Homo sapiens: one gene and its partners. The protein of the gene in region 3 purifies or fractionates together with the protein of the main gene of each other region. This does not show direct contact. Each region holds a gene or a part of one and is shown on either strand. Other genes may lie near its edges.

Region 1 (3,930 bases), on a different chromosome or scaffold from region 3:
TTTGAACCCAGGAGACAGAGGTTGCAGTGGGCCTAGATTGCCAGCATGGGCAACAAGAGCAAAACTCTGTCTCAAGAAAAAAAAAGTCCCAAATTTATCTTCAGTGCAGAAATAAAAGCACGTTTCATTGCTTTTTGGTTTTGATTATACTATCAACCAATAATAATGTTTAAATCATATTTCTTAGGAGCATAAAGCACTTTCTAGATATTTTTAATTCATGTAATATTTTGTAAAATCTCATCTTTAGGCCTATTTAATATGACAGTCTTCTCCAATAAATTTAAGATAATTCACAGGTATTATTCAGCCTCACAGTTTTGCTGTGTGACGGGAAAGCAGCAGGCATTAGGACTGTGATTTGACAAAGGCAAAAATGGAGACACAGCATGGAGCAGCCAGCCTCCCTGGCCGTGGCTCACCATGGCTGCATCTGCGCCTGAGCCTGCCTCCCAGCACTCACCTCTGCTTCCTCGAGAGCCAGCTGGATATCAGCCTTTTCCAGCTCAATCTGCTTTCTTGATTTCTCCAGTTCATGGATGGTTTTGCCATTTTCAGCAATTTGTTCTGTGAGATCTGCTATCTCCTCTGTAAAGAAGTAAGTTTCAGTTGCATATGAGCGCCTCTGCGTGGGTTTCCAGACATGCAAAGCATTGACTCAATGCTTTTTACCTGGTTTATTATAATCCTAAGGTTTCCTGCTTCCTAGAGATAAGATATTGTACAGAGAGAGGCTAAAACGTAACCCGTCAGATGGTGAACACTTTCTGCATGTGCATTAACACACATGTGTGCAGGAAACTGAGTGATGAAGCCACACCCACGCCAGCATGCTCTCGAGCAATAGAGCATGAAAGGAGGAGGTTTCAGAGGGTTTCGAATAGCTTACGCTCTAAGTTCTTATTTTCCCGTTTCACAGTTTCAAGTTGATCTAAGGCTTCCTCGTAGGCATTTTTCAGTTTGAAGAGCTCAGTGCTCAAGGAGCGGGACTCCTTCAGGGATGCCTCCAGCTCTGCTTGGCTCTCCTCACACTTTGTCTTCCACTCTGCCAACACCTGAAACACCGGACGGAAGTTCTCTCCGTTTCTGAGCTCTCCTCTAGGTTTCTAACAAAATACTAAATAACTAAATTAAATGCAGAGTTAGGGCTACACTTGGCATCACTTGCCTGGCTCCTTGTTGTCGATTATTGGGCTAATCAAGATTCTGTTCCATAAATGTACTCAAGGTAATGAGTCAGGAACAATTGCCATCTTGAAAAAGCAAATAGATCCTTTGAGAAGGAATTAGCTGGGCATAATTGTCCTTTTCCTAATATAAAAAGGGCCCTGTACTTCTAAATATTTCATTAAAGCATTGGTTCCAATCAACTTTATCTGCCATCTTGAAAGAAGGGCTTCCAGAAAGCCTCCCAATAGGATCTCAGCTTAGACAGACCAGTAGTACGGAAAGGAAAAATGCTTAGGACTGCACGGACATTGTAGAAATTGGTTTGTTTCCACGGACAACATTTGAAAGGGACCTCTACCCCCAGCCCATTCCCATTCTGTTTTGCAGATGAGGAAACTACAGCCCGGTGAAGTTCAGGGACTTGCCCAAGGCCACACTGCTGGTGAGGGCAGAGTCAGGTCCGGGATGCATTCTCCTCCTTCCACGGCTGCTAGGAATCCCTTACATCATGGCATTCACCCAGCACACAGCGGACCCCACACCTTGTCAAAGTTCCTCTGCTTCTTGTCCAGAGCGGCGGCCAAGGAATTGGCTCTTTCAACATCAACCATCAGATCCTCCACCTCTCCTTGCAGCCTCTGCTTGGTCTTCTCCAGTGAAGCACATTTAGCATTCACTGCCTCAACCTGTTCCTCGGAATCTTGAAGGCGCTGAGCAAGTTTTTTCCTTAAAGAATATGAAAGAGAAGCAGCTGTTATTTCAGTTTCCATCCACTTGAACATCACTATTCATCAAGTTGGAATCACTAATCTATGTGATTCAGACACCCATGTGTTTTTATACGCCCAGGAGAATTTCCTGTCTACTCAAAATCTGGGATCAATAACTTGCCTTGTGTCTGACCAAGATCAAAGCTGTTTGTTTTAATAAAATGTGCTAACGCCAGGTCCCTCTAATGGCCCAGCACCGCATTTAAAGACACATGAGATGGGGAAACGCCTAGTAATAAAAATAAATTCATCGAATTCATTCCTAAGTAGTTCTTCTAAAAGCAAACAGAGCTGCGCACTTGGCCTCCTCCAGCTCTTCTGTGCGCTGGATGGCGTCCGTCTCGTATTTGGTTCTCCACTGGGCAACCTCACTATTGGCCTTGGACAGCGCCCTCTGCAGCTCAGCTTTGCCTTCCTGCTCCTCCTCATACTGTTCCCGCAGCAGGTCACAGTCGTGGCGGGAGGACTGCAGGGCGTGCGCCAGGGCGTTCTTGGCCTGCAGAAGTTAAAAAGAGAAGAGCACCTGATATATTTAGTGCCAGGTGCATGATACAATCCAAGTGTGTCCCTTCTATCACCACCTTCTGAATGAAGTTGCCTTTTATTTTTTCCTCCTACAGGTGATATTTAAAAATAAGGGCAAAGAAGTCTTCCTTCAATGGTGTACCTTGTTCTCTTCCTCCAGCTGCCTCTTGAGCTCTTCTGTTTGCTGGGTAAAGGCTTGCTTGCTCCTGGAAAGTTGGGATACTATGCTTTCTTTTTCTTCCAGCTGACGACTCAGCTCACCTGTGTCCAGAAGGAAATAGTTTCATTTCATTTATTCACTCATTCACTCACCAACTTTCTATTATGTGTAGGGCACTGTGCTAAGATCTGGGGAGACAGAAAATGATAAGATATGGTTTCTTCTTCAGGGAGAAGGTATATGGTTCATGAAAAGGAAACTGAAAGCAGAACTGATAAGGTATTGTTGTAGGCCAGGTGCAGTGGCTCACGCCTGTAATCCCAGCACTTTGGGAGGCTGAGGCAGGCAGATCACAAGGTCAGGAGTTTGAGACCAGCCTGGCCAATATGGTGAAACCCCATCTCTACTAAAAACAAAAATTAGCCGGGCGTGGTCATGGGCACCTGTAGTCCCAGCTACTTGGGAGGCTGAGGCAGGAGAATCACTGGAACCCAGGAGGTGGAGGTTGCAGTGAGCCAAGATCATGCCTCAATCTCAAAAAAAAAAAAAAAAAAAAAGATATTGTTGTAAACTACTGGAAGGTGGGACTGATGTCTGTCAAAAAAAAAATCCATTGAGAAGAACTGTAAATGTAAACGTTACCAGGAGCACCTAATAACTCCCATCAGACCTCCCCAGTGGCAGGTGTTTCCAGCTGTTTATTGATTTGTTATCGACAAATACATAGGGAAATACTTAGAGCTTTATATCTCTAGTTAGACTCTTGGGGGAATAGGGTAAGTTCAAGTTTATATGCTTACATAGAGGTAAGAGAAAAACATAGAATGGGGCTTTATGGCTCCAGACGTGAATCCCCCAACATGGTAAAAGTGGCCACCATAGGCCGGGTGCGGTGGCTCACGCCTGTAATCCCAGCACTTTGGGAGGCCGACGCAGGCGGATCACGAGGTCAGGAGTTCAAGACCAGCCTGGCCAACACAGTGAAACCCTGTCTCTACTAAAAATACAAAAATTAGCCGTGTGTGTTGGCATGCGTCTGTAGTCCCAGCTACTCAGGAGGCTGAGGCAAGAGAATCGCTTGAACCCGGGAGGCGGAGTTTGCAGTGAGCCGAGATCACACAATTGCACTCCAGCCTGGGTGACAGAGAGTGAGACTCTGTCTAAAAAAAAAAAAATGTGGCTACCAAACTTCTTTTCTTCATTGTCTTGGCTGTGACTGCCAGCCGAGGATGGATTCACCTGTGAGGATGCACCAGGGCTGGGTGAAGCCACATTTTCTAGGCGAAAACTCCAAATAACATTCCC
Region 2 (3,930 bases), on a different chromosome or scaffold from region 3:
TTGTGGACAAAATATAAAAACAACTACCTGAGGTTACTGGAAAGTGGAGGAAGCAGAAAAATTCTTGAAGGGTGTCAATGCTTGGAAGAAGGAAATAGGGGATCAGAGTTGTGGGTGTAGGTTCCCATTATTTCCCCATTTTTACCGATGTTAGTCCCAGAGAGGGCTGCAGATGATACCACATTAGGCAGCTACTCTAATGGAAAGCCCACAGTTTTCTGAAGAACCAGCAGGCAGATTTTAGGGCAACTTTACTCTCTGAAAAGTGACAGAGTCAGAGTAAAAGAGTTCCAAATTCTGCATACACTCTACCCATATCTCTGATGACTCTAAACCACACATTGCAGGTCACAGTCAAAGCAGATTAGCTACCAGTAAAAGAACTCAGATTTGAGATGCTGTCCAAGGGGTAGAGTTTGCAGTTTGGGTCCAACCAAGTAAAATATCAACACAGCAATATAACAGAATCTGTGCAACATTCAAAACCCAAATAAAACTATTTAATTTACAAAGAACCAAGAAAATGTGGCCTATGCTTAGGAGAAAATACATTAAGGGAGACTAACAACTTCAAGTTGACCCAGACACTCGCATTCTCAGACAAGAGTCTTACAGCAACATTCAGCTATGCTTAGTGACATAAAGAAATATATACTCACAATGAATGAATAAAAACACAGAAAAATCTCAGCAGAGAAAAAAAACTTTTAACAAATAAATGGAAATCTTAAAATTGAAAAATACAATATCTAAAATAATATATTAACTAGGGCTTTACAGAAGAATGAAGAGGAGAAAGGAAATTGTAATTGTCAGTGAACTTGAATATATAGCAATAGAAATTATTCAATCAAAAGAACAGAGAGACAAGATATTGGGGAAAATATGTATAAAAAGGGAACTAAGAACTAAGAGAACTCCTCACTAGCAGACCTACACTACTAGAAACAATAACAGAAATTATTCAGGATGAAAGAAAATAATACCAGGTAGAAACTTGGAAATTCAAGAAGGAATTAAGAGTATTAGAAATGACAACTAGAGTGGACATAGTATGTGCCACCAACAGTTGCCTCTGACTTTTTGTTCCTGCCACTAGGATCACTGTCAACAGACAGTCTTCAGTTTTCAGCCTCTCCAGGGATGACTTCAGTTACTTAGACCAAAGTCAGACCCTTTCCAGGGGAGCCCATATCCAACGACTGATTTAGATGGAGTTATAAAGGAACAGCCATTTTTATTCAATGCAGGGCCTCTCTAAGGCCAATCTAGCTCCTGAGCTCCCTGTGGGGTCAGTGAGGGTGTCAGTTGGTTGAGATTGCAGGTAGACTTCTCCCTCTGCTCACAAGCATACTGTACACAAAACTCTATCTCAGAGTCTAACTTCCAAGAGAACCTGCAACAGCAACAATAACTCAAAGTAACAGACATTTTTGAAGAAAATTATTTCTTCAAAAGTGGAAAAACTGGCCAGGTACAGTGACTCACGCCTGTAATTCCAACACTTTGGGAGGCCAAGGCAGGAGGATTGCTTGAACCCAGGAGTTCAAGACCAGCCTGGGCAACATGGGAAAACCCTGTCTCTACAAAAAATACAAAAAAAAAAATTAGCCTGGCGTGGTGGTGCACACCTGTAGTCCCAGCTACTTGGGAGTCTGAAACAGGAGGATAACCTGAGACTGGGAGGTCAAGGCTGCAGTAAGCCATGATTGCACCACTGCACTCCAGCCTGAGTGATAGATAGAGTAAGACCCTGTCTCAAAAAAGAAATAGAAAAACTTTTAGCCCTGCTTTAATCCTGGAACTTTTTGGTATTGCTTTCCTTAAAGATTTTGGTCCTAGAATGGGGTCTAGGCATATAAATTCTATGTAGAAAAACTCTGAAGTTGTTGCTTAGTGTTAATGCATGAACAATATCATTTCTTCCTGGGGGGAAAAAGGGCTGATTGTGACTGTGTCTATTATATGAATTATATAAATCAGTGATATTTATTACCATTATTATTATTTAAAAAGTAATGATTGTTGACTTGATTCTTAGGGCCTACTAGCATCACATAGTCCAAAGGTATTTTATAACCACAGATCTGCTCCCAAATCCCAGTCAGCAATTGACAAATGTATGTGAGTGATAATAAGGCAGAAGAGGTAAAAACATGTTGATGGCTACTACATTTTTCAGACACAAATGGTTTTTCAGACACAAATGGTTAATTTTTCAGACACAACATAAAATCAAACAACAACTGGGTCATTTTATTAACTAAATGCCATTAACTGAAATATTCATGACCTTATTGGGAGGAAATTTATCTACGGTAAACTCTCTCATTTGTTCCCATTACCTTATTGCCATCCTCAAGCTACTAGCATCCCTCTATCTAATGTCTCATCTTAATCCTCAATTTCAGAAGAGTATCTCCTCCTACATGAGGTTAAGCACTCAATTGATACTCCACTTTGGCTCCCTTCCTGTCTCTTCTCAGATCTTCCTATCTTTTATAGACTGGAAAGAGATAAGTATGGTTCTTAGAGCCCAAATCCAAATATCTCTAGTGCTTATTCTATTGTTTTTGTCCATATGTTTATTCTGTTCGTGGGATGGATCATCTACTTCATGAATGATTCACAAACACTAGAGTTTTCTATACAGTCATCCCTCAGTGTCCTTGGGGGATTAGTTCTAGACCCCCAGAGATGGCAAAATTCAAGGATGCTCAAATCCCTAATATAAAATGGTGTAGTATTTCATATAACCTATGTACAATCTCTCACATACTTTCAATCATCTCTAGATTGCTATAAAACCTAATACAATGTAAATAATACATAAGTAGCTATTATATTGAATTATTTAGGAAATGACAAGAACAAAATCTGTACATGTTCAGTACTAATGAAATCATCTATTTTTTCCCTTTATATTTTCAACTGAAGTTGGTTGAATCCAGGGATGCAATACAGAGGGCTGACTGTATTTCCAAGTATCTGTAGGAATTTTCCTCCTACTTGTCCTCCCTTCCTATACTGAATTTAATATCTTCCTCCACAACGAAACTCCCTTCTCAGTCACATATATACCTCAGCGGCATCACAGAACTTTTTTCAAATGAGAACCCCAGGGCAGAAGCTCTTGACTCATGTTTCAAAATAAATATTTTACCTAGTGCCACCGCCACTCAATGGGACACTGTTACCACATTATTCTCCAAAAAATCCTACTTAATTATAAATTTTCCTGTTCACCAAAGAACAGGTGGTTCCTCATTGTCTACTGACTAATACCCAGGTTCTTTAATTTAGCTATTAAGGACCCCCAAAATCCAGCCTTATTTCCTACTATTATTTAACACACAACCTCTGTTCCTGCAAGCTACAGCTCTTTCTCTCTCTGAAGCACCTTGCATTTGCACATGCTACACATCCCATCCTTCCAATTCCTTTCTCTGCATTTCCCCATTTATCCAAACCTGTCATTCAAAGCCTAGCTCAAGACCCATCTCCATAAAATCCTCCACAACTCCAACCCACTGTAATTTCTCCCTCCTTTAGATTTGTACTAGTTTCATATACAATTTCAAGATTTACTGATTTTAAATGTTCACCAATTGTTTCATCTTACCTTTGTCTTTCTAATTTAGATTACTAATAACTTTTAGGCACTATTCTACACACACACACAGACATTAATAAGGACTTTTAATTAATTTATTAATTGCTTAAGCATGAACATTTAGAGAAAAACACACCTATAAATTATTATAACATGTAAATTCACAAATATGCAAACTAGAAAAGGAAGATAGGACTAAAGTTATTAATAAGGACAAAACCCTTCTTTTGCACAATTGTTTTGAATCTTTTTCCACTGTTTGCAAATCTGCCAAAGCTACCTTAGAGCCCTGTCTTGATTTTTATCTCCTCTTCTTG
Region 3 (2,600 bases):
AGGACTAGACATGCCACGGCTGCTCTCAGTCCCAGTATACACAGAACAGGGCTGGCAGGCTGTGGCCTAAGGCACACTTTAATTACTTTCACAGGGTTCTCAGAGGACAAACTGATCAGAACAGAAGCCCTCTGGGTTTCCAGAGCAGTGCTCTCACAGAAAACTGCAGAGGCGACCTTCTTTTAAATCCAAAGTGGTACCTCTCTGCTGAAGGCACTCATACCCTCTCTTTCTCTCTCTCCTCCAGGTGCCTGTATCACCTGCCCTTCTGCTGACACTCCTGCCTGCTGTTCCTGACTACAGCCATCATGCCTCGGGGTCAGAAGAGTACGCTCCATGCACGTGAGAAACGCCAGCAGACCCGGGGTCAGACCCAGGATCACCAGGGTGCTCAGATCACTGCAACTAACAAGAAAAAAGTATCCTTTTCATCCCCTCTTATTTTGGGGGCTACTATCCAGAAAAAGTCTGCTGGTAGGTCACGTAGTGCTCTCAAGAAGCCTCAGAGAGCACTATCCACCACTACATCTGTAGATGTTTCTTACAAAAAGTCATACAAGGGAGCCAACAGCAAAATTGAGAAAAAGCAAAGCTTCTCTCAGGGTCTATCCTCCACTGTGCAGTCTCGCACAGACCCTCTAATCATGAAGACAAATATGTTGGTGCAGTTCCTGATGGAAATGTACAAGATGAAAAAGCCCATTATGAAAGCAGATATGCTAAAAATTGTCCAAAAAAGCCATAAGAATTGCTTCCCTGAGATCCTTAAAAAAGCTTCTTTCAACATGGAGGTGGTATTTGGTGTTGATTTAAAGAAAGTTGATTCTACCAAGGACTCCTATGTCCTTGTCAGCAAAATGGATCTCCCCAACAATGGGACAGTGACTCGTGGGAGGGGATTTCCCAAGACAGGTCTCCTGCTGAATCTCCTGGGCGTGATCTTCATGAAGGGCAACTGTGCCACTGAGGAGAAGATCTGGGAATTCCTGAATAAGATGAGAATATATGATGGGAAGAAACACTTCATATTTGGGGAGCCCAGAAAGCTCATCACCCAAGATTTGGTGAAGCTTAAATACCTGGAGTACCGACAAGTGCCCAACAGTAATCCTGCACGCTATGAATTCCTGTGGGGTCCAAGAGCCCATGCTGAAACCAGCAAGATGAAGGTCCTGGAGTTTTGGGCCAAGGTCAATAAAACTGTCCCCAGTGCGTTCCAGTTCTGGTATGAAGAGGCTTTGAGAGATGAGGAAGAAAGAGTCCAAGCTGCAGCTATGCTCAATGATGGCAGTAGTGCCATGGGCAGAAAGTGTTCCAAGGCCAAGGCTAGCAGCTCTTCCCACGCCTAGTGAAGTTGAAGCAAATTTTGCATTTTGTGGTTAAAGAGGGCAGTCACTGTTCCAAGGAGTGAAGGACTGGGTGTTACTGGAGGGAACACACTGTATAATACCTTTTGTTTCTGTTCTAAATGGATAATTTGAAGTTTTATCTGTATTTTGGGGCATATTTTTCAAATGTTCCTTTTATTTAACATTGTAATCTAAGTTTAGGATTGATACTGGTCACATTTGTTGTTTAAGAGTAAAAATTTTGCTGTTTTGTAAAACAGATTGAGAAAAATTCGATCTTATTTAGTGATCTGTTGCAAGATAACTTGGAATTAGAATAAGCATTTCCTTGAAAATGTTTAAAAAAAAAAAGTCAGCAGTAAAATGTATGGCATTAAGAAATAGAGAAAGAGTGTAAGATGGTCAATATTTGGTTTCCTAAATGCTTTTACTCTGTGCTTTAAGAAAATGAAAGATAAATAACCATATATGTCTGGCTTACTTAAGAATGTAGAATTAAATCATAATAAATTAGACCTCATGCTGACACACTCATTCTCCAAGTGTTAATTGAGCATCTGCTCTTGGAAGGATCCATGCTAATACTGGGAGGGCTAAGAAAAAGAAGACCTAGCAACTGACCTTAAAATTATAAGGTCGAGAAGCAGCTATCATCTAAGGAAAATGGTGATATACACTCTAAGACCAAAAGGATACATGATAAGAAGGGAGGGAGGTGGTTCCACATGAGAACAGTCAAGTATGAATTATCTAATCAAGGCGGTGTTGGGCCTAAGGAAAGTGCAGGTCCCTCAATGGGAGTTAATCTAAGTGAGGCTCCATGGTGGGCTGGATGAGGCTGTGGGAATGGCGAGCAGGGGCCAGGCTCTTAGAAGTTGCCTCTCACGCAGTGGCGGGCGCCTGTAGTCCCAGCTACTCGGGAGGCTGAGGCAGGAGAATGGCGTGAACCTGGGAGGCAGAGCTTGCAGTGAGCCGAGATTGTGCCACTGCAGTCCGGCCTGGGCTAAAGAGCGGGATTCCGTCTCAAAAGAAAAAAAAAAAGAAGTTGCCTCTCAGAGGTGCGAGACAAAGCTTGGAATAGGAAACAGTTCTTAACAGTTACTTTGGGATCATGGATAAATCAGGGAGAATCTGGGGTAGGAATGTGTCCTGTGCTCTTGTCCCAGTACAAATAAACACAGCACACACTAGGTGTTTTGTGCACATCATCTCCAGCCAGTTTCTGAGAAATAAGGGTAATACCCTCAAGGG
Region 4 (3,930 bases), on a different chromosome or scaffold from region 3:
GACAACTTTTTCCCTCTGATCATTTATATTATCAAACTCTCATGATTTAAAATATTAGGGGCCATTTATCTGTGAAAGACTTTTTGCAGTAAGTTAACACAATGCATCAGGGAATGTAGCTATTTGGTGATCTAATTTGATGCAAGGACAGAGTTCAAAGACTATAGAGCCAGGTGTCTCAAAGTACAGGATGTCTGTGATCAGGACCATTTCTCCATGTTGAGAAAGGCATTTTACATTGCCACCTATACATCTACACATATACATATGTGTATGCAGATATATAAATAATTTATATGAAGCAAATTTTATTTTTACCACTTGTAATTATGCTAATATTTTCAACTATATTCCATTTTATTAAAAATAATAAATTTTGGTCATGATCCACGATATATATATATTTGGGTAATTGTCTATATATGGGGTAATTAGCTGTAAAAATCATTTAGATGAAAACAAAAGTGGTATTAGAGAATAGAATACAAAATTCACACAACATTAACATATAAAGCCAGATATTTTCTAAGAAATTCTGAGTTTTTAATATCTCCTGCCCCATATACCCCTAAAGAGCTGTGTTCCCCCTTCACTGCCCTTAGTGGTGTTTTAGTAGCAATGTTTGAGAAGCACTGACATACAGCAAGGCTTCTCAAAGGGTGCTCCTTGGACTTGCAACATCAGCATTTCTTGCAAACTTGTTAAAAGTGCCAATTTTCAGGCTCCACCCTAGATCTTCTGAATCTGAATCTGAATCTACGGAGGTGAGGTTCAGGAGTCAGTATTTTAACAAGCCCTTCAGGTGATTCTTATGCATGCCAAAGTTTGAGAAGCAGTGATGTAGAGAAATGAGTGACCTTAGCAAGACCTTGACCATCATCCCGAAATAGAATTTTTTCATCTGCATGTTTGAAAGCAGAGTAGGAACAAGGTGAAGCAGAACCTCCAACTCTCACTGCCAAGGTTTCATCCCATTGCATCAACCACACAATACTAATTTGCATCAATTAAATTTCAGGGAGGCCATCTTCTGTATCCAGTACAATATCAGATCCTTCATGAATGTCAAGCACTGGCCCTGGATGAAACTCTTCTTCAAGATCAAGCCTCTGTTGAAGAGTGCAGAAACTGAGAAGGAGATGGCCACCATGAAGGAAGAATTTCAGAAAATTAAAGACGAACTTGCCAAGTCAGAGGCAAAAAGGAAGGAACTGGAAGAAAAGATGGTGACGCTGTTGAAAGAAAAAAATGACTTGCAGCTCCAAGTTCAGGCTGTGAGTTGGAATATCACCCTTGGTATCACTAACCAGGATGCAGGTGCTAGAACTTTGGCCATTGTGGGCCATGAGTTGGGTAATTGCAAGGGAGACACTCATTGGAAGGAAAAGGTTAAAACACTCCAATGGCACGAAAAGGTCCAAACATTCCTCCATTGCCCAATAACCCCCAACAAACCAGCACCAGGGCAGTGAGGTAGAAATATCCCTCATTTTCCATTGTACACAATTTCATCAAACCACAAGATTTTTGACTTATTTTCTCTTTAAATACAGTCCATAAAAATGATTTTAATATGACACAATCCCAAATAAAATATGAAGGGGAGGATAGCATGGAGAGAGTAATATTTTTCGGAAACTTCCTTGAACTTCTAGATGTCCACGGGTCTTAAATTATAATAGGAACAGCTGACATATGACAGCACTCTCATCAAATTTTACTGAATTATCGTGTGATATTGATCTCAAAAACTCAGACTCCCTCTTTCTAATCTGTCTCCACAGTCAGTGTCCCATCATGTCACACCCACATTGCTGCATCAGCACCAAAGTTGCTCAGCCTACTTCCCAATTGTCTCTTCTTCCATCCAGCCTGCTCACTGCCCTCTCCTGAACCAATCATTTTAGAACTGCTTCCATCAACTTCAGACTATAATTTATAAGACTATGTTTTATTTGGAGTGAATTGAATTGGTCTACTTATCATAAAGTCATATTTTTTTCTGTTAAGACTGGTCTCTCTGTCAACGTTGAGCAGTATAATAACTCCTTCTAGATTACAGAAGGAAAAAGCCCTCCAAATCTACCCTGTATTCTCTTCTGTTGTCCCCAGAGATTTATGCAGAATCTGTACTAAACCACTGTATTCGTTACACAGTTATACATAGCACCCTGCATTCCTTAATGTAGTCAAAGACTGATATGGAGGATTACTGATGAGTATATATTCCAGTGTCTCCTTCATTTCCCGCCTGCCCTGTCCCCCTTAATTGGAAACAGCAGGTTGCCAGGAATTTCTTGATTACTTTATGTTTCAACTTGAATTTAGTACATCATAATCAGGAGCATCCTCCAGTACTACAAAAAAAAAAAATCAGTAGCAGCTGTATCTTGAATTTGTCCTGCTAGAATGCTTCCCCACAACCCTCCTGCTCCTCTCCACAATAAGTTGATTTCTGCAAAAGCAAATCCTACCCCTCTCTCAAGGCCCAAATCAAACAGCAATTCTTTCATGAAACCATCTCTGATCCAACTTCTCTGATCTGTTATGTCACTAATTGCTTTCTACATTAATGGTAGCTTTTGGGAAATAGGTTTTCTAATCTACTGTAGAATACATTCTTTTAGGGGAACAAAATGACAACTGGTACATTTTGGCTTACCCACATGTGGAAAATGTACACAGTAGGGTGGTTCATGAAACAAAAATTTGTGAAGGAGTAAACAAATGAATATAGGAAATTCAAAAGATCAAATGCAGAAACATACACTCTTATCCATTGTGAAGTATTTCATTCTTTCTTCCCAATTTTGATCTTGTTTCCAACTTAAGGAAGCCGAAGGCTTGGCTGATGCAGAGGAAAGGTGTGACCAGCTAATCAAAACCAAAATCCAGCTAGAAGCCAAAATCAAAGAGGTGACTGAGAGAGCTGAGGATGAGGAAGAGATCAATGCTGAGCTGACAGCCAAGAAGAGGAAACTGGAGGATGAATGTTCAGAACTCAAGAAAGACATTGATGACCTTGAGCTGACACTGGCCAAGGTTGAGAAGGAGAAACATGCCACAGAAAACAAGGTATCAATCATATTCTACAGTACTGTATAGAGGTTCTGCCACCCAACAAAGGTGCTTTATAGCAACTAAACTGCTTTCTTCACCTTTGTAGGTGAAAAACCTCACAGAAGAGATGGCAGGTCTGGATGAAACCATTGCTAAGCTGACCAAGGAGAAGAAGGCTCTCCAGGAGGCCCACCAGCAGACCCTGGATGACCTGCAGGCAGAGGAGGACAAAGTCAACACCCTGACCAAAGCTAAAATCAAACTTGAACAACAAGTGGATGATGTAAGTCTGGTATCATCAAGGACATTCTTTTCTTCTAAAGGAAGATAAGCATTCCTTCTGATTCAACATAATTTATATTTAGCTTGAAGGGTCCTTGGAGCAAGAAAAGAAACTTCGCATGGACCTAGAAAGGGCTAAGAGGAAACTTGAGGGTGACTTGAAGTTGGCCCAAGAATCCATAATGGACATTGAAAATGAGAAACAGCAACTTGATGAAAAGCTCAAAAAGTAAGTAAGAAAGAATTGCTTATGGATTTGCTTCCAACATTAGATACGGACTAAATTGTTGTCCTTTGCTACTTTTCTAAAAGGAAAGAGTTTGAAATCAGCAATCTGCAAAGCAAGATTGAAGATGAACAGGCACTTGGCATTCAATTGCAGAAGAAAATTAAAGAATTGCAAGTAAGTACATGATTTTCATCAGTCTGGCTCGGAGGCAGTTATGACACAAAGAAGCTGAGTTTGTATTTTCCACCATTCCCAGGCCCGCATTGAGGAGCTGGAGGAGGAAATCGAGGCAGAGCGGGCCTCCCGGGCCAAAGCAGAGAAGCAGCGCTCTGACCTCTCCCGGGAGCTGGAGGAGATCA

What was found. Proteins that work in one complex are often made in the same cells at the same time.
Region 1: the proteins of MAGEB3 (region 3) and MYH3 purify together in Homo sapiens (co-immunoprecipitation; one large-scale study listed by IntAct). This does not show direct contact.
Region 2: the proteins of MAGEB3 (region 3) and CD200R1 purify together in Homo sapiens (co-immunoprecipitation; 2 studies listed by BioGRID and IntAct, with this or other methods). This does not show direct contact.
Region 4: the proteins of MAGEB3 (region 3) and MYH2 purify together in Homo sapiens (co-immunoprecipitation; one large-scale study listed by IntAct). This does not show direct contact.

Annotation. Positions count from the first base shown.
Region 1 is NC_000017.11:10,633,128-10,637,057, forward strand, and holds part of MYH3 (myosin-3), read right to left. Parts: intron 2,727-3,930; coding exon 2,608-2,726; intron 2,437-2,607; coding exon 2,240-2,436; intron 1,897-2,239; coding exon 1,713-1,896; exon of another isoform or gene 1,558-1,712; intron 1,056-1,557; coding exon 890-1,055; intron 589-889; coding exon 464-588; exon of another isoform or gene 289-463; intron 1-288. UniProt on the Homo sapiens protein: Muscle contraction.
Region 2 is NC_000003.12:112,968,422-112,972,351, forward strand, and holds part of CD200R1 (cell surface glycoprotein CD200 receptor 1 isoform a precursor), read right to left. Parts: intron 1-3,930. UniProt on the Homo sapiens protein: Inhibitory receptor for the CD200/OX2 cell surface glycoprotein. Limits inflammation by inhibiting the expression of pro-inflammatory molecules including TNF-alpha, interferons, and inducible nitric oxide synthase (iNOS) in response to selected stimuli.
Region 3 is NC_000023.11:30,235,617-30,238,216, forward strand, and holds the end of MAGEB3 (melanoma-associated antigen B3), read left to right. Parts: intron 1-247; 5' UTR 248-308; coding exon 309-1,349; 3' UTR 1,350-1,879; downstream 1,880-2,600.
Region 4 is NC_000017.11:10,528,977-10,532,906, reverse strand, and holds part of MYH2 (myosin-2), read left to right. Parts: intron 1-1,018; coding exon 1,019-1,274; intron 1,275-2,832; coding exon 2,833-3,075; intron 3,076-3,166; coding exon 3,167-3,343; intron 3,344-3,425; coding exon 3,426-3,571; intron 3,572-3,654; coding exon 3,655-3,745; intron 3,746-3,827; coding exon 3,828-3,930. UniProt on the Homo sapiens protein: Myosins are actin-based motor molecules with ATPase activity essential for muscle contraction.